4 linked regions of the Homo sapiens genome follow. The protein of the gene in region 1 interacts with the protein of each later gene in a pairwise test. Each region holds a gene or a part of one and is shown in the gene's direction. Other genes may lie near its edges. The genes, in order: ARHGEF11, NCK1, PLXNB1 and PLEKHG4B.

Evidence for each region.
Region 2: the proteins of ARHGEF11 (region 1) and NCK1 interact in binary tests that used the Homo sapiens proteins (3 or more experiments, as listed by UniProt).
Region 3: the proteins of ARHGEF11 (region 1) and PLXNB1 interact in a two-hybrid assay, tested with the Homo sapiens proteins (2 studies listed by BioGRID).
Region 4: the proteins of ARHGEF11 (region 1) and PLEKHG4B interact in binary tests that used the Homo sapiens proteins (3 or more experiments, as listed by UniProt).

Annotation. Positions count from the first base shown.
Region 1 is NC_000001.11:157,042,743-157,049,543, reverse strand, and holds the start of ARHGEF11 (rho guanine nucleotide exchange factor 11), read left to right. Parts: upstream 1-3,801; 5' UTR 3,802-5,213; coding exon 5,214-5,245; intron 5,246-6,484; exon of another isoform or gene 6,485-6,637; intron 6,638-6,801. UniProt on the Homo sapiens protein: May play a role in the regulation of RhoA GTPase by guanine nucleotide-binding alpha-12 (GNA12) and alpha-13 (GNA13). Acts as guanine nucleotide exchange factor (GEF) for RhoA GTPase and may act as GTPase-activating protein (GAP) for GNA12 and GNA13.
Region 2 is NC_000003.12:136,942,157-136,949,207, forward strand, and holds part of NCK1 (SH2/SH3 adapter protein NCK1), read left to right. Parts: intron 1-3,426; coding exon 3,427-4,139; exon of another isoform or gene 4,140-4,175; intron 4,176-6,102; coding exon 6,103-6,297; 3' UTR 6,298-7,051. UniProt on the Homo sapiens protein: Adapter protein which associates with tyrosine-phosphorylated growth factor receptors, such as KDR and PDGFRB, or their cellular substrates. Maintains low levels of EIF2S1 phosphorylation by promoting its dephosphorylation by PP1.
Region 3 is NC_000003.12:48,403,317-48,406,100, reverse strand, and holds the end of PLXNB1 (plexin-B1 precursor), read left to right. Parts: intron 1-302; coding exon 303-377; exon of another isoform or gene 378-378; intron 379-1,510; coding exon 1,511-1,615; 3' UTR 1,616-2,247; downstream 2,248-2,784. UniProt on the Homo sapiens protein: Receptor for SEMA4D. Plays a role in GABAergic synapse development. Mediates SEMA4A- and SEMA4D-dependent inhibitory synapse development. Plays a role in RHOA activation and subsequent changes of the actin cytoskeleton.
Region 4 is NC_000005.10:88,158-95,176, forward strand, and holds the start of PLEKHG4B (pleckstrin homology domain-containing family G member 4B), read left to right. Parts: upstream 1-4,010; 5' UTR 4,011-4,074; coding exon 4,075-4,119; intron 4,120-7,019. UniProt on the Homo sapiens protein: Guanine nucleotide exchange factor (GEF) which specifically activates small GTPase CDC42 by exchanging bound GDP for free GTP.

The DNA of each region.
Region 1 (6,801 bases):
CCAGCACTCTATAGCTTACAGAGCCCAGGCTTGTTCATATTAAATCCTTACAAACTGCAGATGGCAGTTCACAAAGTTATCTAGTTCTCCGGACTCCTAGTCTAGTCTAGCTCTTTCCATTGATCACCAGCTGCCTCCAGATTCCTACAACCCAGTCTGTCTAGGACACAATCTAATCTATTTTGTTTTTTAACCTGAGACTTGCAGTTTACTTAAATGGCCAACTAACTTCAGGGAACTCTATCTTACTAAAGCCACCCTCATAATCTTCAAAGTGGAGTGTTCAAGGAGATGCTTGAGGAAAATACTTAAGAATGCACTCATGGCCGAGGCGGGTGGATCACGAGGTCAGGAGATCGAGACCATCATGGCTAACACAGTGAAACCCCATCTCTACTAAAAATACAAAAAATTAGCCGGGCGTGGTGGCGGGCGCCTGTAGTCCCAGCTACTCGGGAGGCTGAGGCAAGAGAATGGTGTGAACCTGGGAGGCGGAGCTTGCAGTGAGCCAAGATTGTGCCACTGCACTCCAGTCTCGGCGACAGAGCGAGACTCCGTCTCAAAAAAAAAAAAAAAAAAAAAAAAAGAATGCACTCATAATAGTATTTAATTATAGCAAAAATAATTAGGTTTTACTAACACTAATGACATGGCATTCTCACTCAGTCACTATGTCAGAAGTCATCTGTCACACACAGTATATGAGGAGGTTCCAAGAACCAGAGGTAACATCACCATTGACGTTCATTTTCTTCATGATGTACGCCACCCACCAGACAAAAACAAGCCTGTTAACTGCTACAAACTTTACAATTCTTTGTAATGACAGAGAATGACCATGAAAATCTTTGCTGTGCAGATTAACAATCTCCTGGGGAAAGCCTAAAATGAAATACTGAACATGGAGGAGATGCACAGTTTTATTTCAGTGTTCTATGATGAGAAATGGCTGTCAAGAGTATGCTACCTAGCACTTACTTGCAAAAACAAAAACAAACAACAAAAACACCGCTTAATCTGTCCCTTCAAGCTGTCCCTTCAAGGTTAAGATGACAGTCTATCTACGAGCGAGGAAGTCACTGCTTTTCTAAAGAAACACATACTTTAGGAAAAAGTATTTTGAAGACGGATGACTGGAAATGGTTCCAATATTGTGATTTTTTTAATTACCAAAAACAATGGTTTCACCTATCAAAACCTTTGCACACTGAAAAATTAGGAAACAGAATTTGAAAACCTATTTTTTAAAGTTAAATGAAATTTCTTAATGGCTGGAACCCATTTGTTAAGAATATAAAAATGTAACACCTTCCAATCATTCAAGAAGGATTGACTTAAGATATAAATTTACTAGTTGAATTTCAATTAGAAGTCTTTGCATTGTTGATGAATGGGATTGGAAAATAAGTATCATGATTTAATAAATGCAATCAAGGGCATACTTCTTCTGTTTGAATCTACCTATCTTTGGCAAGCATCTTTTCCAGTTATGACAGCAATTAACTTTCACCAAAAAGCATGATTTAAAAAATGTTCATTTTTAAATTTCAACCTTTTAATATTTCTACACTAGGCAATGTTGTATAAGATATGTAATAAAATATATGTAAATACTTGCTTTAAAAATATTACATATATTAAGAACACATTATCATTATTATTATCATTTTGAGATGGAGTTTCACTCGTCACCCAGGCTGGTGTGCAGTGGCGCAATCTTGGCTGATTGCAACCTCTGCCTCCCGGGTTCAAGCGATTCTCCTGCCTCAACCTCCGGAGTAGCTAGGATTACAGGCGCTCCCCACCATACCCAGCTAATTTTTTGTATTTTTAGTAGAGACGGGGTTTCACCATGTTGGCCAGGCTGGTCTCGAACTTCTGACTTGAGGTGATCCACTCGCCTCGGTCTCCCAAAGTGCTGGGATTACAGGCGTGAGCCACCGCACCTGGCCAAGAAAACATTATTTTAAAATGTGTGGCAACCAGTGGTCTGTCACCACAGAGCAGTGTCCACATTTGAGAGCATCATTTTTGCGGGTAGTATGGGAAAGAAAGACACAATTAAGTCAGCAACAATCTAGACTGTGCTTCAAATGCTGGGCAGATCACCTGTTTTGGGGAGTTCTGGCCTAGGGGTTGGTGGAGACAGGGTGAAGGAAGCAGGTTCTTTTATTTGCCAACCTATACCTGATATACATTAAAGGGAAAGTTCCTGGTTCATAGTAGGTCTTCAACTGATGCTTATTCGTTTCTTTTTCCTCTTGCAATTTGCATATCTACCACTTCTAACACTGGTGAGGTCACTCCAGAGCTCACGAATGTGTATAGATAATTTACATATACATATCCACCCCCTCCCAGAACAATCCAGGTAGTGTGAAAGGAGAGAACTTATGCAAACACCCCACTGCCTGCAGAGTATTTTACAATGGCATTTACCTAGGCAAGAAGGCAAAGTCCACTCCCCAATCCTAGTGAGAGTTTTTTTATTTTAATAATTTTTTAAAAAAAATTTTATTATTATTAGTTTTTTGAGACGGAGTCTCGCTCTGTTGCCCAGACTGGAGTGCAGTGGCGCAATCTCGGCTCACTGCAAGCTCCGCCTCCCGGGTTCAAGCGATTCTCGTGCCCTAGCCTACCGAGTAGCTGGGATTACAGGCACGCGCCACCACGTACGGCTAGTTTTGTATTTTTAGTAGAGGGGGGGGGTTTCACCATGTTGGCCCAGGATGGTCTCGAACTCCTGACCTCAGGCCCCGCCTCGGCCTTAATGATTTTTAATCATAACGCTCGGCACCTTCTGACAAATGTCACGTTACTTGTAAAGATTTAGAAACTGTGATTCTATGAGAGGGGGTTATGAAAATAGAATTGCTCTGGAAAGGCTCTTCCATAGAGTTCAAAGACACTTCACACAGCCTGCTATTAAGATGCCCAACCCAACCCGAGAGGAAACAGCGAAGGGTCTTCCCCCTAAGTCGGTGGTATTAGAAGTGGGAAGGACCACAGAAACGGGAGGAAACAGTTAAAAGAACTGACACCACGAAGGAGGCCGCAACAAATGTTTGAAAAATAAGATCAGAAGAGAGGTGGAGAGAGGGTGAGCCGCAGCTGCGGGCGCCGGGGTAATGCCGGTGGACGCAAAGAGGTAAACCTGCACCCGTGGGCAGGGGCACGGGGCGCGGGCACGGTGGCTGGGCGGGCAGGGGGTAGGAAACAAAGGTCGGCTCCCGAGCAGAAGTCAATAAAAGGGGGAAAAGCAGCCGAGGAAAAGCGGCGAAAAGGCGGCAGGGGTGGCGGTGGCGGTGGCGGCGGCGGGGACGGCGCGCGGTGCCTGGCGGGGTCAGGGCCGGGGTCGCCCGCGGGCCGGGCCGGGGATCCGGCTGAGATGGGAACCCGCTAGGCCGCGCCGAGGGGCAGGGCCGGCGACTGAGGGGCCGCAGAGGGGACCGGCCGAGGAGCGACGGCAAAGGGTTGTGGGGGGCAGGGCGCGCAGGGAGGCCGGGACAGGGGCGGGCCGGTCGGCGGGAGTCGCGGCCGCGGGAACCGAGGCAGGGAAAGGCGGTCAGCTTCCCGCCCCCGCCCCCGGCCGCCGCGGCGTGAGGGGAAAGGCCGGCGGGCGGCGGGCAGCGCAGCGAGGAGGAGGAGCCTGCGGCCCCGCCCCGCGGGAGCGAGGGAAGGAGAAAGGCTCGCAGGGAAGGAGGGAGGGAAGGGGGGCGGCCGGCCGGGCCTGCGCCCGAGCGAGCGGCGAACCGAGGGGGAAGGGGCCCGGAAGGAGGCGAGCGCGGCCGCGACGCCGGCAGTCGGACGCCCGCTCGTGCCGGCCTGCCGCAGCCGCCGCAGCCTTCCCTGTGCGCCGAGCCTGGCGTCCCGAGCGGCCGCGAAGGCCGGAACACGGCGGTCGGGCGCGGGGCGAGCGGCGCCGGGAGCCCGAGGCCCGGCCGGGCGTCCTGCGCGAGGCACTGCGGGCTCCTGCCTGCGAGATTAGGCGAGGGGCGGAAAGGGAGGCAAGGAGAGGCCGAGAGGAGACAGGCGATCGGATTTTCCAGGAGTCTGGTGTGGAAGAAAAACCCACCTCGAACTCAAATCCACAATAATAATCCGAACGAATAATAAGGGAGCCGTCTTTCTGGCCGGGCGAGAGAGAGGGAGAGAGAAGGGGGAACGGGAGGAAGCGAAATCTCCGTTTCATGGAGGCTGAGGCAAGAGAAAATTTCGGAGCCTGGATGTGGAGGAGCCCAACAGCAGAACTAACTCAGGAAATTGTCTTTCAGAAAAAGGCCGAACGTAGGCTGGGTCTGAGAATCAGGCTGGGGTAGGTGGAGGAACCTGCAAGTTTAAAGGAAAAAGAAAAGGAGAGAATATTTTCAGAGATTATCTCTGGTTTGTTATCATTACTACCATCTTAAAGGTAAAAAGCATTGCATTTCAGGTGTTCTTTGATTTTTATTTTATTTTTTTTTTTGGTGCAATTGGCTCATTTAAGAATTTCAAAACATTTAATGTAAAAGCTTTTTTTTTTTTAAGGAAGTCCATAAATTTTGGTTCCCAGGGTTGCACTGGACTTGGAAGGAGTGCTGTTGTGTACATACTATTGTATGGTTTTATTTATTATTTTACTGTACAAATCAGCCGAAAGAATTTTTCCAAGTGCCATTTCGGATTTATTAATCCTTTTTTTTTTCCTTTCCTCAAAGATATTTGCTGTTGTCATATTAAGCATTGGAGACTAGAAAATTACTTTCCCCCTTTGAGCTAGAGGGTCTCTTGCCAACAGAAGGACAGCTGAGAAAGCTGGATTTAAAGGATGGTTTTATCTGTACTTTGCAGTTAACAGTGATATTTTGAAGGCACATTTTTCTGTGATTCATTTTTTTTTGGCCATAGTGCTAACCTTGAAGAGATTCGTGGCTGGGTTTTTGGTTTCTGAGAAGGTCGTAGTTTTTCCTCTTTTCCTTTTTTTTTCTTTTTTCTTTTCTTTTCTTTTTTTTTAAAGCGGGGGAGGGGAAGAGGGGCTGAGAAAGGAAATCATGTTCACTGGTAGAAGTAGAGTGGAGCATCAGTTACCAGGGTCCTGAGAGCTGGAGGAGAAAGGATTCTATCTTCAAGTTGGGAGGCCCTCCTCTCACCTTGCTCAAAAATTGCAAGCGATTCAATCCTGATCAAGACACCAAAGCTACAGGATTCTGGAACCGTGGAGACACCGAGAAACCATGAGTGTAAGGTTACCCCAGAGTATAGACAGGTAGGTTTGCTAATAATTTGATTTTTCAACATTGACTAAAGGAAAGACTGGGAGGGGTGGTGTTGCATTTTAATAAATGGTTGAAAATAGGGGTCTGGGTGGGCTATGGGAATTGGTGGGCTAGGAGCATTAGTCTCTGGGGACTGTCAGCCTATGTGGTTATGTGCAAAAACATAGCTCTTGATTCAGCGTCTTTTGAATATAAGCAATAAACAGTGAAGCCAGGAGAGGGAAAGGAGGAGGATGTGCTTCCAGTGGCTTTTGACTTTTGCCAGGGTAGAGGCTGAATTTGAGTCCACCCAACTTGCTAGTCTCAGGTGGGGGCAAGCCAGTCTTGTGAGCTCCTAGGGTTGCACTAGGGGGACTGGCTTTAGGTGTTGGAGCTGCTGGGAGAAGGGCCCTGGCAGAGGCGTGGGCCTCCACCAGGCTGGTTGGTATGGAATGGTGGGGCTTGGTGACGGGGTGGATCCCATTTCTAGAAATGAAGAGGATGTTCTTGGCCTGAATGATGGGACAGAAACATCCTTTGCACCCATGCAAGTCTGGATTTTTACCAGTAGCTGACATGGTCCCAAAATGCATAGATCACATTAGAATTTCCTCTCCTCCAAGCTTAGAGTTTGAATTGAGACCTGCCAACCGGCTGATGCTCTAGGTTTAATCTTCCAAGCTGTTCTTAATAAGCTTGACTCTGCAAAATGGGCCTTCCCTCTGCCTGGAGCCAGAAGAAATTGTTTTGGGCTCGTAGGCCTGCTGGGCAGCAGCACTGGCCCTCAGAGTCTGAACACATGACACCCCTTGCCCCAAGAGTCTGCCCAGCCACCTCTATCACTGGTAATGTTACTGTGTGGTTGCAATTCTTACCTCCAAATGATTGGTACAACTTTGTAAGGTGTCTGCCTTTTCCTTCCCTCCCCTACCCCTCCTCAACGCTTCTCCCCATGAGAACCTTGCTGTGGGGGGTGTGTTTTGTGGGCACTGCACACATCCTAACTGGATAGATGGGTGGTTGAAGGACTGAACAAGCAAATGAAAGGACTGGGCCTGGAAAAAAATATTATTGGAGAGATAGGGAAGAATATTTGCAAGGGAGCAATTGTTCCCTCCATGCCCAGTCCACCTTCGGTTATCCATGCTAATAATAATTTCCTTTTGGTTGTGGAATGTGGCCTAAAATGCATATAATCTCTCTCTCTCAAGCACTAATCTCTGTATTGCCTCAGAGTCCCATTTAGATTAGTTCAGCAGTCCCTAGATGGGAACTGACTTGGCAGTGGAGAAGAGGAGGCAGACAGCCACAAAGGATGTACGGCCAGTTCAGACCTCCTTCCTCCTTTCTGTTGGCCTCTCTGCAGTTTGACCCTTGGAAAGGGAGAACTGAGGTGTGTCAAGGTGAGGAATTGGAATGGTTTACATGGCTGCCCTTCTTCCCTTTTCATCCTCTTGGAGTTTGAGAATTAGTGCACTTGCCTTTTTAAGATTTGGATGGTGAACTCTTTCTGGTAAATGCAAGGATTTGAGAAGATGGGAACCCAAGTTTTGGGGGCGTGCAAGAA
Region 2 (7,051 bases), on another chromosome or scaffold:
CACAGGTCTGGTAGTGATGAATTCCTTTAGTTTTTGTTTATCTGGGAATGTCTTATGTTCTCCTTCATTTTTGAAGGACAGTTTTGCTAAATATAGAATTCTTTGTTGGCTCTTTTGCTTTCAGCATCAGATCAGATTCTATCCCCTCCCCAGGGCTTATTACTGCTGCTTATTGTGAGTGGTTGTTGTTTGCTTGTTTAGTGACTTTACTAAACTACTTTTATAAGCTCTATATTCCTGGTCATGTGGGGCCGCTGAAGTCTATTCCATTTGCTTAGTAATCAGCTAGGGTTTTAACAGAGTTTCGTTAAACACCTGGAGCCAAAAGAAAAAACAAACAAACAAAAGAAAACCTCTCCCCATCTTTACAGATGGCTTTATGTTGGGGCAGTTTTTGACCACTTAGTGATGCCATTTATAATTCTGCCTTAGCCTTTGCTTACTGTTTGCTCAAAGCCTGAAGATCAGCCAGGGTGAAAGCTTAGGGTCTTCTTGGGCCTTTCCTGAATGTGCATCCAGCCCTGGCCATGTGCACGTCCTTCTTGATTGGTATACACACCCCTTATTACCCCATGTATATTCTTTCCCATCCCCTTTCTGTCCAGGCTTTTCCATCTGTCTGTTCCTTGTCCCAGTTGTTGTCCCTTGCCCCAGGCTGCTGCATCCATTAAATGATTTTTGCAAAAACCACCCAGGAAGACTCCCTATGCCTGGGAATGATTCAAGTCAGGCAAAGCCAAGGCAAGCCATTGCTCAGGTCCTTCAGGGAGCTGCCAGACAAGTTGAAACCCACAATCACAATTGTTTAAGAATGAGATCTGTATTGCTTCCTCTGGCATTAGGAGTGCAGGTTACTGTCCACACAGCCATCACTGACTTGGGGTGTGGGGGATGGTGGGCAGGCAACTTAGGATGCGATAGCACTCTCTTTACCACAAAGCAGCAACTTCTTTCTTTACCAAGCCTTGCCCTAGATTTTATAAGTTTTTTTTTTTTACTAGATTCCAGAGTTCTGCAAAAGTTGAGTCTGACAGTATTTACCAGCTCATTAATTGCATTCATTGCTTTTTGCAGGGACAGTGCCTTGGAGTTCCTTACTCTACTATTTTTGGTGGTATCACCCCAAATGTAGGGATTTCTCTGAAGGCTATCATTAACCGGAAGTAAGAAAATTAGGAAGGAAGAAGTTGATTTAGGGGTATAGACTGGATTATTTTTATTTGGACATGAGTGTTGGGTTTGAGGTACTGATGGCACAATCTGTGGGTGTCTAGTGACAGTTGGAATTGTAATGCCTGAATTCCAGAAAGGTCTTAGAGCTGCAAAGAGATCTGGGAACCTTCTGCACAGAAATTATAGAAAATGAAAGTGTATGATTTCCTTGGAATAGAGAGGAAGGTCAAGTATGTCATCTTGTGAAACACTTTCAGCTAAGGAATTCTTCATTTATTCATTCAGCATGTTTGCTGACTGCTGAATACATAATTTTGTTTTTCCTTTGTTCCTACTACTGATGTATGTACTGCTAAGCGTTGGAGACAGAAACGAATAAGATCTCGTTTTCTGCCCTCAGGAAGTTCACTCATATTGAGGAAGACAGACAAGTAAACAAGTACAATGCAGTGTTATAATAACAAGGTTAGAGGAGCCTAGACAGAGGTAAACAAGAATATGTAAACAGGTTGGGAGGGAAAATAAGAAATTCGGGGAAGTCAAAGAAGAAGAAAACATAATGGAGAGAGTGGGCTGTGATCTTGGTTGCTGCATATAGAGTTTGAGAAGGCTGAGGACTTTAAAAGTTACTGATTTGACAGTAAGGAGAGATGACATAAGAATGGTATTCATAAGAATGGTTTTAATTGAGTAGTTTTGTTAGAATGTTGGAGACAAAGGATCAGATAATAAAGAGTTGGGAGTGTGAGTGGTGAAAAAGTCGAGGGAAAAGGAAAAACAACCTTTTTTTTTTTTTTTTTTTTTTTTTGAGACAGAGTCTTGCCCTGTCGCCAGGCTGGAGTATAGTGACGTGATCTTGGCTCACTGCAACCTCCGCCTGCCAGGTTCAAACGATTCTCCTGCCTCAGCCTCCTGAGTAGCTGGGACTACAGGTGCACACCACTGCACCCAGCTAATTTTTGTATTTTTAGTAGAGACGGGGTTTCACCATGTTTGGCCAGGATGGTCTCGATCTCTTGAGCTTGTGATCTGCCCGCCTCAGCCTCCCAGAATGCTGGGATTACTGGCATGAGCCACCGTGCCCAGCCGGGAAAGACAACTTTTAAAAGAGTGGTATAGTTTATTCTATAGGAAAATTGGACCAGTTAGAGAAAAAATAAATAAATTACCAAAATGTTACGGTTTAAAAGTTGTAGCAGAGTTAAAGTAACTTCATTTTGGAGTAGAAAAGATATGAGTGTGTTTTTAGACAATTGAAGGGACTAAATAGGAAGGAAAACAAGGATGTCGAGAGTCCCAAGAGAGTCAGGAAAGATAGTATTAAGATCCTAGAAGGATCAGGATTTGGAGACTTGAGTGAAGAACGAGAGTGAGGATAATGAGAGTTTTGAGACAAAAGGAATTTGAGAAGTTTTACCTAGGGAAGCCTCAGTTTTCTAGGTAAAGTAGAGCATAAAATCACACGCTAAGAAATGGGCAGCAGTGAAAATGCCTGACTGAAGTTGATGTAGCGTACATTTGTATTGATAGTACCATTTGGTGATTTTCTCATTTCTTTCAACACATATGTGTTAAGCATTTACTGTGTACTAAGCACTATACAAGATCCTTGGGATTCTATCTGTAAACAAACAAAACTCCCTGTCCTTTTGGAGGTTACATATGACTGGGGTAAGGGGAGAAAAACAAATAATATTTTAAAATAAACATATGAGGTAAATAGAGCTACCTGGGTCTGGGAACCAAGAAAGCAAATGGGAAGATTAGCCAGACATAACTGCAATTTTATATTGCATATCATATTCTGATTTAAGATAGAAATAATTTTATTTTTATACAGCTCATTGTAGAATCTAGCTTGCTTAAACTAAGACAAGAAGAGTATGGGTGTGGTGGAGCCTTTGTGTACTTAGATTGTAGCTATGAAAGAAATCTATATTTACATTTAAGAGGGAATTCATTAATTTAGGACAACTTTATAATTATGTTATATAGTTATTTCAGGGCCTTTGACAAGAGAAAAGATGGTGAACTGTCATATAATAACAAATTAAATATTTATTTGGTTAAGAAAAAGAAAATTTGCATCTTATTTCCAAAAAGATGATTTTTAACTACATAGAAATTTGTTATATTTAAAAGCTTTAAAGATCTATATAGAGTTGAAGATCTCTTTTTAATAATGAATAAGTTCATTCTTTTGGTAATCATTTTTTTATATTCTCCTCTCATGGCCCTTTTTAATTTCAACAGGCATTGGAAAAGTGAAAAGAAAACCTAGTGTGCCAGATTCTGCATCTCCTGCTGATGATAGTTTTGTTGACCCAGGGGAACGTCTCTATGACCTCAACATGCCCGCTTATGTGAAATTTAACTACATGGCTGAGAGAGAGGATGAATTATCATTGATAAAGGGGACAAAGGTGATCGTCATGGAGAAATGCAGTGATGGGTGGTGGCGTGGTAGCTACAATGGACAAGTTGGATGGTTCCCTTCAAACTATGTAACTGAAGAAGGTGACAGTCCTTTGGGTGACCATGTGGGTTCTCTGTCAGAGAAATTAGCAGCAGTCGTCAATAACCTAAATACTGGGCAAGTGTTGCATGTGGTACAGGCTCTTTACCCATTCAGCTCATCTAATGATGAAGAACTTAATTTCGAGAAAGGAGATGTAATGGATGTTATTGAAAAACCTGAAAATGACCCAGAGTGGTGGAAATGCAGGAAGATCAATGGTATGGTTGGTCTAGTACCAAAAAACTATGTTACCGTTATGCAGAATAATCCATTAACTTCAGGTTTGGAACCATCACCTCCACAGTGTGATTACATTAGGCCTTCACTCACTGGAAAGTTTGCTGGCAATCCTTGGTATTATGGCAAAGTCACCAGGCATCAAGCAGAAATGGCATTAAATGAAAGAGGACATGAAGGGGATTTCCTCATTCGTGATAGTGAATCTTCGGTAAGTTGATTTTCGGAGGTAAATACAAATAGAGCTCTGGGTATTTTAAAAAAAAGAGAGAGAGAAATGGAGAGGTTAAGTGGCTTCCCTAAAGTTAACCAGGTAACAAGCTGGGACGTAACATAAGCATAAATGTTCCAAAGCTAAAGTCCGCATTCTTTCTAGCTATCTATTTTGAATAAAAGAGAGCTGTGGCAGTGTTGCTACACACTGAATTATTTCGTCTTGTCTAGTTCTGTTGATTTTGCATTCCTGATATATTTTCTGTTTCTGTTGCATTAAACTAAATGGAGAAAATGGAACACTGGCCTCTTCATTGAGAGTAGAATAATACTATAGATTAAACTGGGAAACATTTAAAAAATTGCTATTGGATGCAATGTGTAAGAAGGTAGTCACTGTAGTCCTTATGACATAGGAAATCCCTGAATTTAAAAAATTGATATTAAGTTTCTTCATAAATTGGTTACTTGGAAATTGGAATGCACTTTTATTATAACCTCAAAAAACCTATTTTAGCAGTGTTTGAAATGCATTTGCAATAAAAGATAAATTATATTGCAATACTAGTAAACAATAAAACTATAAAACCATAAAAGTTGAAAAATAATATGGTTTCATGGTCTCTTTTAGATACTGCTTAGGATATTAGAATTTGATGACACTCATTTTCCTTAAAAATGGCCTTTCTTTTTCCTTGATGAAAGATATCACTACTTTTCCATTTATTAAATCATGGTTAATCTTGGCTTTGCGTGAGTATATTTGTACAAAAGGGAATGTGTAATTGCACAAAATTTTGAAAGAAAATGTGTGGAAGTGGGGTGTGGTGGGGAGAGAGATTAATTGAACTTCCTGATGTGAAGTTCAGGAAAATGGGGCCTGTGCCTAATCCCTCAGAAAAGCAGTTGGTTGGCAGTAGGGAAGAGTGATGACATCCATTTTCTGTTAGTTGCCTGATCTGGCTCACTGTTTGAAACTTTGGGAGTAACTGTAGAAAAAGAGGCTTTGGGGGTTGATATAGACTGTAACAACAACAACAAAACTAATTAAAAAGAAGATAGCTTGAATGCAGAATTGTATGTATTTTCTTGTGGGTAATTGAGTGTAGATATTAGACAAAATGCAATATATACCATTATTTTTAGCAGTATACTTTTTAAGGTTAGAGGTCTCAAGTAGGCATATTTTGTTTAGCCTTCACAGTGTTTTTTAAACATTTAAATTCATTGCCGATATTTAAATATTAGGATATTTATTATAAAAATTCAGACTTTAGACCATTTAAAATTGGAAGAACTACCAACATTGAGACCCGGTTCCTGCAAGGCAACAATCACAGCTGAGAAGTCACCACTTGTTTAGATTGGTGATACACTGTCATTTCCTCTGCCCATCTACCTTTCCACTCTGACACTTATTTACATTATTCTTTTGGCTCTTGTAGGCATTTGAGTTTGTAGCCTCTCCTTAAAGTTTAGATTAATTCTCATTTGTGTATTCTTCATTTTTGGGAATTCAGCATGTTATCTCTAAGACAGCTACTGTTAGCTACACATTGAAAAGGGGTTGGGTGGGTATCTTAGACTTTCTCATGTGTTTCTCTGACTGGAGAGAAGATAGCTCTTGTTCTTCAAATATTTAACTAAAGGATTTGCTGTGGGTGTCTGCTGTTGGAGCCGTGGGTGTTAAGAGACTTTTGATTATGCAGGTTTGAATCCTGGCTCTGTTGTTAACTAGATGGATGATATTGGCCAAGTTATTAATAGCTTCTTTGAGACTCAGTTTTCACATGTGTAAAAAGGGTTTGTTTTGAAGAGTAAAGGAGATAATCTATGTAAATAATTTACCATGGTGCCTAGGACTTAGTAAGTGCTTAGATTTTAGCTTTTAGTTTAATATAAAAATACTGATAGAGGGCTTTCAAAATGTTTACTATATGTATCTTTTTTTTCTCTTTTAGCCAAATGATTTCTCAGTATCACTAAAAGCACAAGGGAAAAACAAGCATTTTAAAGTCCAACTAAAAGAGACTGTCTACTGCATTGGGCAGCGTAAATTCAGCACCATGGAAGAACTTGTAGAACATTACAAAAAGGCACCAATTTTTACAAGTGAACAAGGAGAAAAATTATATCTTGTCAAGCATTTATCATGATACTGCTGACCAGAAGTGACTGCTGTGTAGCTGTAATTTGTCATGTAATTGAAGACTGAGAAAATGTTGGGTCCAGTCGTGCTTGATTGGAAATTGTTGTTTCTAAATCTATATGAGAATTGACAATAAGTATTTTTATTATAACTCAGCCCATACATATATACTATGTATGCAGTGCATCTGCATAGAACAGTTCCTTATCCTTGGCCTTCTGTTTTATTGTTTTTTTCTTTGCTGTTTTCCCTTTGCTTCTAATATTACAGTTTTGTATTTTGTAAACAAAAATCAAATAATGCATATCAGAATCTTTATATGGAAGAAATCCTTTATTGCCTTTCCTTTGTTTCCTTGTAAAGGCACCCTGTTCTGTTATGGTTTTTCATTATATAAAATTATTATATCTATATATGACATATGCTAAAATTTCTTGGAGAGTGTTAATCTTTTCTGTGACTAAATAGCAATAATAAGTGGAAAATTAGAAATTATTTCCAGGTATTATATTTGTCACAGGCCATTGTAAATACCAAGTATATTGTGTCTGCCATAATTTTTAAAAATACATTCATTGTCTTCAGTCATACAGCAAGACACATGAGACATAGATTAGAAAACATGTTGTACAATTTTAATTTACAACTGTTGGAAATAAAAATCACTTAATTTTTTTCCAGTGCTTCTCCCTCATCTGGTTATTCAAGAAAACAAAACAGTCTCTGAGATATTTAGCTTTTCAAACTGTAAATAGATGCTC
Region 3 (2,784 bases), on another chromosome or scaffold:
CCTCAAGGGGGTGAGAGAGGCAGGGCTTCAGTGGAAACCCCAGACCTTGCTGAAGCAGGTAGACCTGGGCTGTCTTCCTACCAAGGAGGCCCCCTTGCTCTACCCTGTTCTGTCCCCATCTGGCACACCTGGCCTGGGGTCCCTGGGCCATGGAGGGGACTCTGCTTCCCACTGTAGTGCCCATCCCATTCTCTACCTCTCAGGTCCCCTTCTCCCCCAGCCCTTCCCTGGGGTCCTGGGCTGCCTCCTGTGGCTCTCTGCACCCCTCGTCTCTCTCACCTTTCATTTGGCCTCTTCCCTAGAACTACTCCGGAGACCTCGGGGCGCGAGTGGCCCTGCATGAACTCTACAAGTACATCAACAAGTACTATGACCAGGTGGGCAGGCCCTGGACCCCGACTGGGAGGCTGACCCAAGGCCTCCCAGGAGACTTAAGGGGCTCTGACCCTGTGACTCACGTTGGGGGCTTTGGTCTTCCCCAGGGACAGAGTAGTGGGGGGCCGGGCCCCTTGGTGGCTTGAGAAGTGTTTTCCAGGCGGGCTTCCTGGCATTGGCTGTGCTCTCACCTGTCCCACTGCTCCCCATTCCAGCTCCCCAGCAGGACGGCGAGGCACAGTGCTGGTGGTTGTGGGGGCCAAGGGGTCTACCAGGGCCTGGAGATGGTGTGCATTTGCTGAGTTGGCAGCATGTTGGGCACGGCCAACATGCAAGTGCAGGCCTGGCTTGGCTGCATGAGCTGCGAAGAGGAGAGTCCAGGCACAGGGCCAGGGGTGTGAGGGTACACTGGAGCTGGTGAAGCTTTTTGGAGGATCCCTGGGCTGTGCCTGAAGAGCTGAGCACCTGCCAGTCAACCTGCTGGATGCCTGGTGGAATAGTCCACTTAGATGTTTGTGTGGCACCAGTGACATGGCTATTGCTGCTCAGAGATGAGGAACCTGTCTCATGGCCCACAGCCTTCCTCGGCATGGTGTGGGCCATGGCACGGGGCTTGGGGGAGGCAGGGTGTGATGCAGGCATGTCCCCTTGTGGAGACATAGTGGGCAGTAGCTGTTTTCCCAAGTGCTGCTGCCCTCCGGTTCCTACCGGTTCCCTTGGTGGCAGCCCCAAATTCGTGGTTCGTGTTTGATCAGTGTCTGTTTTCCCACCACGTGTCTGGTCATTCTTGGGTCTCTGCCCCTTGTCTGGCACCGGGCAGACAGGAACTTGGGAAATACTGTTGGCTGGCGGGTGGGTTAGCCAGGATGGCTGCAGCAGGGCTTCTGAGGAGCTCGCTACTGAGTCAGGTCCTTCATTTCCTACCTTATTCATCCTGGAACCCCGCGGTGACTTTGATGTTATTACCCCTCCCGCCAGCGAGGCCCTGAGGTCCCAGAAAGTACGTGAAGTGACCGGCTGGGTTTCTTGGCCTCCTACCCCACTCATGCCACAGCGTCTTAGGAGGGCTGTTGAATTTTGCAGCAAACACGTTGGCCAAAGAAGTCTCCCCTGATGGCATTGGTCTCTGTTTCAGATCATCACTGCCCTGGAGGAGGATGGCACGGCCCAGAAGATGCAGCTGGGCTATCGGCTCCAGCAGATTGCAGCTGCTGTGGAAAACAAGGTCACAGATCTATAGGAACCCAGGAGCCACGGCCTGCTGTTGCTTCAGCCTGGCCTGGGCAGCCCTGGAAGCTCGGAGGAGAGGCCACCTTCTTAGGTGCCTGTAGTGACTGACAAGCAGAGTTAGTGGAAGGTGACTCCCAGTCTCCTGGTGGCTCTGGCCTCGGCCCTGCTGGATCCACCTCCTAGACCCGGGGCCTCAAGGCTCATGGGGTAGTACCCAGCCTGCTCCCCGAGTCCAGCGACCCTGTGACACCGGTCTGCAGGGAGTTGGGGACTAAGGGCTTCCAGAGAGTGGCTGGAAGAGACTCCAGGCCCCTGGGGAGACTGTACTGTTCCTGAACACTGGCCTTGGCCACACTGGGATTCGGAGAGGAAGGAGGAGAGCCCCATGCTTCCTGTCTGCCTCCTCCACCATCCCTGACCTCAGTTGAGCTGCCTCTGGCCTTGTTGCTGCTGCCACATCCTAGGTCTAAGAGTTGAACGCCTCTCCTAGGCCACTACAAACTGACCCCTCAGCAGGGCTGGCTGCCACAGGGCTGCCCTGCCTCATAGGTAGCCATGGTGAGGGCTATCTGCTGCAGGGGGGTCTTGGGGAGAGTGGTGACTCCATTGACCCAGCTTTTCATTAAAGGATAACACACTGCACTGAGTCTGATGTGTGAGCCCGGCCTAGCCCCTGGCTACTAGGAGGACGGCAGCTATGCCCAGCAGGTACCAGGGGGAGGTGGTATCTATACTCTTGGGGAGTCTCATGGTTCCCCATCATATCCCAGACTGCAGGGCTGGCTGAGGCTCTCCTTGACGCCTGGGCAGGGTCTGGTGGGGTCAAAGCTTCCGTGAAGGAAGAACCCCATCTGGGGCAGGGCGGGTGACCGAGATAGAGGGGTCTACAGTCTCTTCAAGGGGGCCTGCTTTATCTGCAGTTTGCGTATTCTCACTTCTCCACTCATGTTCTATTTATCTTGAAAGGGACTAGGAAAGGATGACATAATTACAGGCAACTCTAGGCAGAGGGGGTCTCGAGGGCCATTTTCCATGGTCCTGTTCCTGGACTTAGGGTTTCTGTGTTGCCTTCCAAATCAGGGCATCCTAGGGCCGGCTCCTAAACTGTCTGCCTCCATGAAGGCCGCCTTATATGGTTCTTCCTGATTTGTACCTGGAGGTGAGCTTGGAGACTGTCTT
Region 4 (7,019 bases), on another chromosome or scaffold:
ACAGAGATTGCATTGAATCTGTAGATCATTTTGATGAGTATTTACGTCCTAGCAATGTTGTCTTTCTATCTATGAACATGACATTGGCTTTCCATATATTTGTTTCTTGAACTTCTTCCTCAATATTTTGTAGTTTTTAGCATACAAATCTTTCACTTCCTTGGTTAAACTTATTTCTAGGTATTTAATTCTTTTGGATGCTATTGTAAATAGAATTGCTTTCTTAATTTCCTTTTCATATTGTTCATTGCTGTTGTATAGAAATACAAATACCGATTTTCACATGTTAATCTTGTACCCTGTAACTGTTGAATTTTTGTATTAGCTCTAGTAGCTTTTTGTGTATTCTTTGGAATTTTCTCTATATAGGAACATGTTACCTGTGAATAGAGTTTTACCTCATCCTTTTCAATTTGAAAGTCTTTCATTTATTTATTTTTTGTTGGTTGTCTCTGTTGCTGTCGCTGGAACTTGCAGCAGAGTGTTGACTAGACATGGCAGCAGTGGGCACTTGTCTTCTTCCTGATCTTGGGGAAAATGTTCAGTCTTGCCATTGAGTATGATGTTAGCTGTGGGTTTTTCATAAATACTTTGTATTACTTGAGGAATTTTCTCCCATCCTTGTTTTCCAAGAACTTTTTTTCTGAAAGGGTATTGCATTTTCAGAAGCCCTTTCTGCATCGATTGAGATGATCGTGTGGGTTTTCTCCCTTCGTGCTGCTACTGCAGTGCACGACATTGACTGATTTTCTTATATTGAACCACCCCTGTGTTCTTGGGATAAATCCCACTCGGTCATGGTGAATAGTCCTTTTAACATACTATTCCCTGACTTTCTTTTGAGGCTTTTTGCATCTGTAGTCATAAGGGATATTGGTGTGTAGTTTTTCTTTACTCACAATGTCTTCATCTGGCTTTGGTATCTGAGAAGGGCTGGCCTCCTACCATATGTTAGGAAGCGGTCCCTCCATTCCAGTTTTTAAAAAGAGTTTGTGAAAGAGATCTATCTACTCTTGTGACTTCTAAGCATGGACACATTTCCTGGCCCAGTCCTGGTTCCTCCTCCCCTCTGTCCACACACTTAGTTCCACCTGTCTAGACACAACTGTGTGGTAGATGGTTCTAGAACCACATCTCTAACCCAACCGCTACTCCAAGCACCAAACTCATACAGCAGTCAGTCCACTCAGTATGTTCAATAGGCATCTCAATCTTAATATGGCATTTCCCCCCAGACATGCTTCTCCAGTCTCTCCCATCTCAGTCAGTGGAAACACCTTCCACCTGCTGGTCAGGCCCCAAATCCTTGAATTGCTGTGTTGGTGCTGACTCGTGACTGCAGACAGCAGAATCCGCTATAGCTAATTTAAGCAGTGAGGATATGTGTGAAGCCATTGGGTAGATCATAGCATCCATGGGAGAGTCAGGAAACCAGAACAGCGAGAAACAACCACAACCCTGGAGAAACACCCAGCCACGCTGTAGGACTGTGTTAGGGAAACCCCCCTCCCCGTCCCCTGCTGCTCAGCACCAACAATGCCAGGGACGGGACCCAGAAGAACCAAACACCTCAACATCCATCTGCTGTGTCCAGCCCGATTCCTGTGTTCCTTCCACATCTCATGTGGTGCATCTCCTGGCAAAACCGGGCACATCTGCACACCAGCTGCAAGGGATCCCGGAGCGTGGCATTATGGCCTCCAGCTTCTGCACACTGGAGGGCACACCCCGGGGGGGGGGGGCGGTGGCAGGGTCACTAATTCAGTGTCTGCCTCTGTGCTCTTTGGGTTCTGTCTCCGCAGCCAGCTTTTCAGCAGTCCTGCCCCCTCTGCCTTTACAGGTCCTGCTTTGACCATTTCCCATGACCTCTGTCACTCCCCTGGAACCCAACCTCATCACTTTCACCAAGATCAGGCATCCACTTCCTGATCTCCTGCCTCCGCCTGCTGAGCTCTCTGAAATGTAAGTCGGAACAGGTCGCTTCCTTTCTAACTCCATCCCCTCTGAGTGTCCCCACTTTCGCTGTGTTTGTGAGCTCACCAGATCTGCCCCCCCCCCACCCCATAGGGCCTTTGCACAGGTGGCTCCTTTGCCTTCAAGTCCCAGGTAGCTTCCTCTCAGTGTCTGCTCAGCCTGCCCCATCAGAGAGGCCTTCCTTGACCGGATTTGTGTTCTGTCCACTGGTTTATTTCCCTCCACTGGAATGTCAGCTTCCCAGAGATGGGGGCTGTGCTGTGACTACCAGTAGTAGTTGATCAGTAAGTACTTTTTGAATAAACCAAGCTATGTTAATAGTCCATGTTTTGGAAAAACTCCCTAGAAAACATCCCTAATTCCATGGATCCATGGCAAAGAAAGAACCAGATCTGTAGAAACGGGCTGGAGAAGCTCACAAAGGACTCCTGGGCTGAGAAAGCCCCACACGGTCCCACTTTCTTTCTGTATAGTGGAGGTGTGGCAGGGGTGAGCTCCTACCACGGGCCCCAAAGTCTCCAGTAAGAGTGAGATTCCGGGCTGCACCCTGACCAGGCGCCACTGGGTCACTGCTGACCGTCCTGGAGGTGCTGAACAGGGATGAAGCCGTTTATTCTGGAGGCATGCCAGCATTCTTGGGTCCTGCTCTGGCAGGAGCTGTGGGGCCACACAGGCTTAGAAAGGTGGCTCCCATCCTGGACAGCACCGTGGGCAGTACTGTCACGAGGACGGGCTGGGAGGAGGGTGTGGCAGGGGTGTTGGGGGCCTCAGGTAGGGGCCAGCACAGAGGGACACCCAGATACCCAGCACAGAGGGCAGGAACAGGTCAGCTCCCTGCCTGGGCTCAGGGATGGGGCTGGAGGTTCTAGGAAGCAGAGCAAGTAAGCAGGACAGGGAACAGTGAGAACACAGGTGTAGATGGAGAATCAAGGCGGGGCGCAGCCAGGGATTCCAGGGAGGAGTAGACAGAAACTCAAGGGAGGGAGGCCTCGAGGGGATCCCAGGGAGGTGTGGACAGGGATTCTAGGAAGGAGTAGACAGAGACTCAAGGAGGCCTCGACGGAGATCCCAGGGAGACTGACTGCCTGCTGCATAGGAGGGAGGCTCCCAGCTGTGTCCCTGAGCTGCATAGGAGGGAGGCTCCCAGCTGTGTCCCTGAGCTTCATCCACTCTGTAACCTGTGACAAAACGGAGCATTATCTGTCAATGAGCACATCTGTGCCGCAGTTTTTGGGATGGTGCCAGGGTAGGGGTGAGGGACAAGTTGAGGGGACAGGTTGAGGTGGGGTCCCTGTGAGGCCCTCCTGGACGGAGTGGACCTTATGAGACACTCCCTAGCTGAATTCCCAGCAGGAAGCTGGTGCCCAGAGCACCCTGGACTAACGGGCGGGAGAGGGACTTTGTTTTGGGAGGCTCTTTGTAGATCAAGGCATTAAAATTGCACCTTTGGGGAAAGCATGTTCCAGAGCACCAGACACCCCGAGGCACCCTGAGTTGTGGGGGGGGAGGGTGATGGAATTTGGGGCCCTCGCTGAAGCCCTTCATTATCCAAGCCAGGCGCGGGGTGGCACGTAGTTCCCACAGCGGCCCCTGGACGGAGGAGAGGGCCTGGGCCGTCCACACCTGCAGAAATCTGGAGCTGGTCCGCCTAGACCAGGGGAAATCGGGGTCCCGTCCGGGTACACTGGCAGAACTCAGGGGTCAGATCCTCTGCCCTGGAGCATTCAGATTTGTGCCTCTACGTTATGGAAACCAGGGGCCCGTCCGGGTGCAACGTGGCATCCACAAAATGGCAGGTCCCCGAGCTCCGGGCTCCGAGAGAACAAAAGCAGAAGCCACTGCCGCCCGCGCTCGGGGAGGAGCCGCCCAGGTGGGCGCGTCCGGGGCTAGGCGGGAGCTGCGCAGCCGGGTCCAGGGGAGACGCCCCGCCCCGGCCGGACCCTCGGAGCCTCCTAGGGGAGACCCCGGCCCCGCCCCTCTCTCGCCCGGATCGGGCGGGGCCCCGGGAACGCGCGCGGCGAAGGCGGCCTCGGCCCAGTGCACAGCGGGACCAGGCAGAGTTCGGGGAAAGCGTCGGAGTTCGGGAGACCAGGGTCCAGCATGGGTTTCAGCACAGCAGACGGCGGGGGCGGCCCAGGCGCCCGGGTAAGAGGGGGCACGGGGACTGCGGCGGGTGGGGGCGCGAGCGGACGCGGGAGTAGGGGCGGGTGGGGGCGCGGGGGTAGGGGCGGGGTGGGGGGGGGCGCCGGAGTAGGGGCGGGTGGGGGCGCGGGGGTAGGGGTGGGGTGGGGGCGCGAGCGGACGCGGGAGTAGGGGCGGGTGGGGGCGCCGGGGTAGGGGCGGGTGGGGGCGCGGGGGTAGGGGCGGGGTGAAGGCGCGAGCATCAAGGCGGGCGGGCGCGGGGACTGGGGTGGGAGGGGGCGCGGGTACCCAGACGTGCTGGGGGTCCTGGCGTGGGTCCTGGGACCTGCCGGCGGCTGCTGCGGGAACGGGAGGGAGCTTCTTCAGGCACCCTTTTCCTTGTAACCTCGTGAATACTCGGGAGAAGAAATAACGCTTTCTGGACAGATTTGCCCTCTCGGTGCCTGAAGGGGAGCCAGGGGAGGGGAGTCTGAAATCTCATCGCCAAAACTGAGAGTTGCTAAGTTACTCTTCAGCTCAAACCGGTGGGACAGAACAGTGATCTGTGGTGGCCCGGAACAAAGAGAATTTTTACTTAAAAATACCAAGATTGACTTTTGTGTTGGAGTGCTAGTTGATTTGAGTAAGAAACATTTGCTAGTAAAACAAGACAGTTATTTCAGCTTTGGTGAAAGAGTGATAAAGCTGTTTTCAGGTTTTTCATGTGAGTTGCAAAAAGTATATTGGGTTTGCCTTTCCCTGTTTCGTGTGAAACTAAAGAGTGGTTGAGGTGAGGTAATTACACTCTACTCCTGTTACCCAACAGCACTTTTGCCTAAAAAGTTTAGTTGGTACGTCTAGGTGTCTAATTAAGAATTGAAACATATAATTTAAAAATTAAGTTAAATGTCATTGAAACGGTGCATAATTGATACTTTTGACTGAGCCTTAGGCAGCTGGGTGGGTCCTGAATCAAGATTCCTGGGAAGGTAGGTTTCTCAGCTTCCCGAAGAGATTTAATGTAAATCTTCATGTAATGTGGACAAAGGTGAGTTTTAGCTTTCAATTTCCCTGAGCCTGCCTCGAATTCACAAAATTCCAGGCTCTCTGGGTCAGAAGGAACTTCGGAGATCTTGAGGAGGCCGCCGTCTCCGAGATTCTGTGATATATTCAGCATTTCCATTCCCTATGGGATCACAACCCACTGGGAAGCAGTGTTTGGTGACCCCCCCACCGAGAAGTGGGTTCATATTCCTGCTTCTGAGGAGATACCAGGTTTTTATTTCACTGTGCGGCATCCGGTGTGCAAATGCAGATGTGGCCTGGGCTGGGAGCACACAGGCTTGACCCCGCAGGCAGCCGGTAGGCCAGGGTGTCAGGTCCCCTGTGTTAGCCGGAGCCTTCTCATCTTTTATCCTGGTAGAGGGGCGCTGCTGGCCTTTCTGGGGGGTGGGTCTAGTCTGAAATCACCTTTGTGGGATCTGTGGCACTGGCTAGCTCTCAAGCTGGCCGGTGGTCTCAAAGGAATTCTTCGTTACTTGTAAAGTAGCCCAGAAATGCTGGGCTGAGGAAGTAATTTGCCCCAAGGCTCCCTGAGACCTGTATTCACAGGTTGTATCATCCAGCCAAACACAGGAGGCCCCAGATCCCCAGATCTCAGAGATTTTTGTGGGAAATCATCTGAGTCTAGCTCAGACACCACTGCCTCCCTCCTTCCAAACAGAATGAGTTTGTCCTCTCTTTGCGTTTGAACAAAAGTCAGGCCATCTAGAGCCTCCTAACTCTCACCTCAGACCTCCAAGGTGGGGCTACTCATTCTATAGATAGTGGAAATTGAGGCTTCAACACCTGCCCAGCATCTCACTGCCAAGAAGCAGCAAAGCTAGGTTTGAGCCAAACTCAAGGTCCTGGTTCTCCTTCTCCCCTCAAGGGCCCTGAAATTTTGGTGCCTCTCCTGGCTGATACAGCATCAGTGCTTCTGTGCCCTGCGGCAGCGGTTCTGTTCCCCACCTGGGTCGCCCCACACCTGGCAGGGCAGGTGCTCCCTGTGGACAGGCCAGTGCTGTTGGGTCCAGCCAAGACCTCAGGTGCCACGTGTGTGGTGAGGGGCTCCCTTCTTCCACCATGCTGTTGAAGACAGAGCCTCAGACTTTGTCTGACCCGAGACCCCAACGTGCTTCTGAGCAGGGGGAGAGTGAAGAGGGGTAGGCTGGGATGAGTGGGTGGCGGGGCTGGAGGGGGTTGAGAGGTGGCAGGTTCCATCCTGAAAGTGTTGGTTCTGGGCCTGGGAATCTGGGCAGGGGGAGAGTGAAGAGGGGTAGGCTGGGATGAGTGGCTGGCGGGGCTGGAGGGGGTTGAGAGGTGGCAGGTTCCATCCTGAAGGTGTTGGTCCTGGGCCTGGGAATCTGGACTCTGGTAAGCAGAAGGCACCCAACATTTCCCTTTACCTTATGGGGGGCTCTCGGGGAGGTGTCTGTGAAGTGGGTAACAGGCTCCAGACCCCGATCTTTTGTCCAAAGAACAGGCCTGGAATCTTGGAAACCAGCACATCCACCCTCCATGAGCTGTTGTCCTTCGGGCCAGTAGCTCAGCCTCTCTGAGCTTCAGTCTGTTCATTGTTTACAGGAATCATCTGTGCCTCACCTACCTCTCCGAGTACCCTAGAGTCAAACTTGAAAAGAGATGTACACAAGCTTTTAACAAGGAAACACAGTTGCATTCTTCACTTATGTTACTGTCCTTTAACAGAATGTTCCTAAATTGAAAGCTGCCTATGTCGTTGTGATATCTGGGACACTTTTCTGGGCCGCAGTTCACACCTGGGCCCAGGTTCTCAAAGACAAAGCTTTTGAATTCTTTTTGATTGATCTTACAAAATTTCCCCTGACAGAAAATCACATTGTGCAAAAGAGATACTTTGTGGT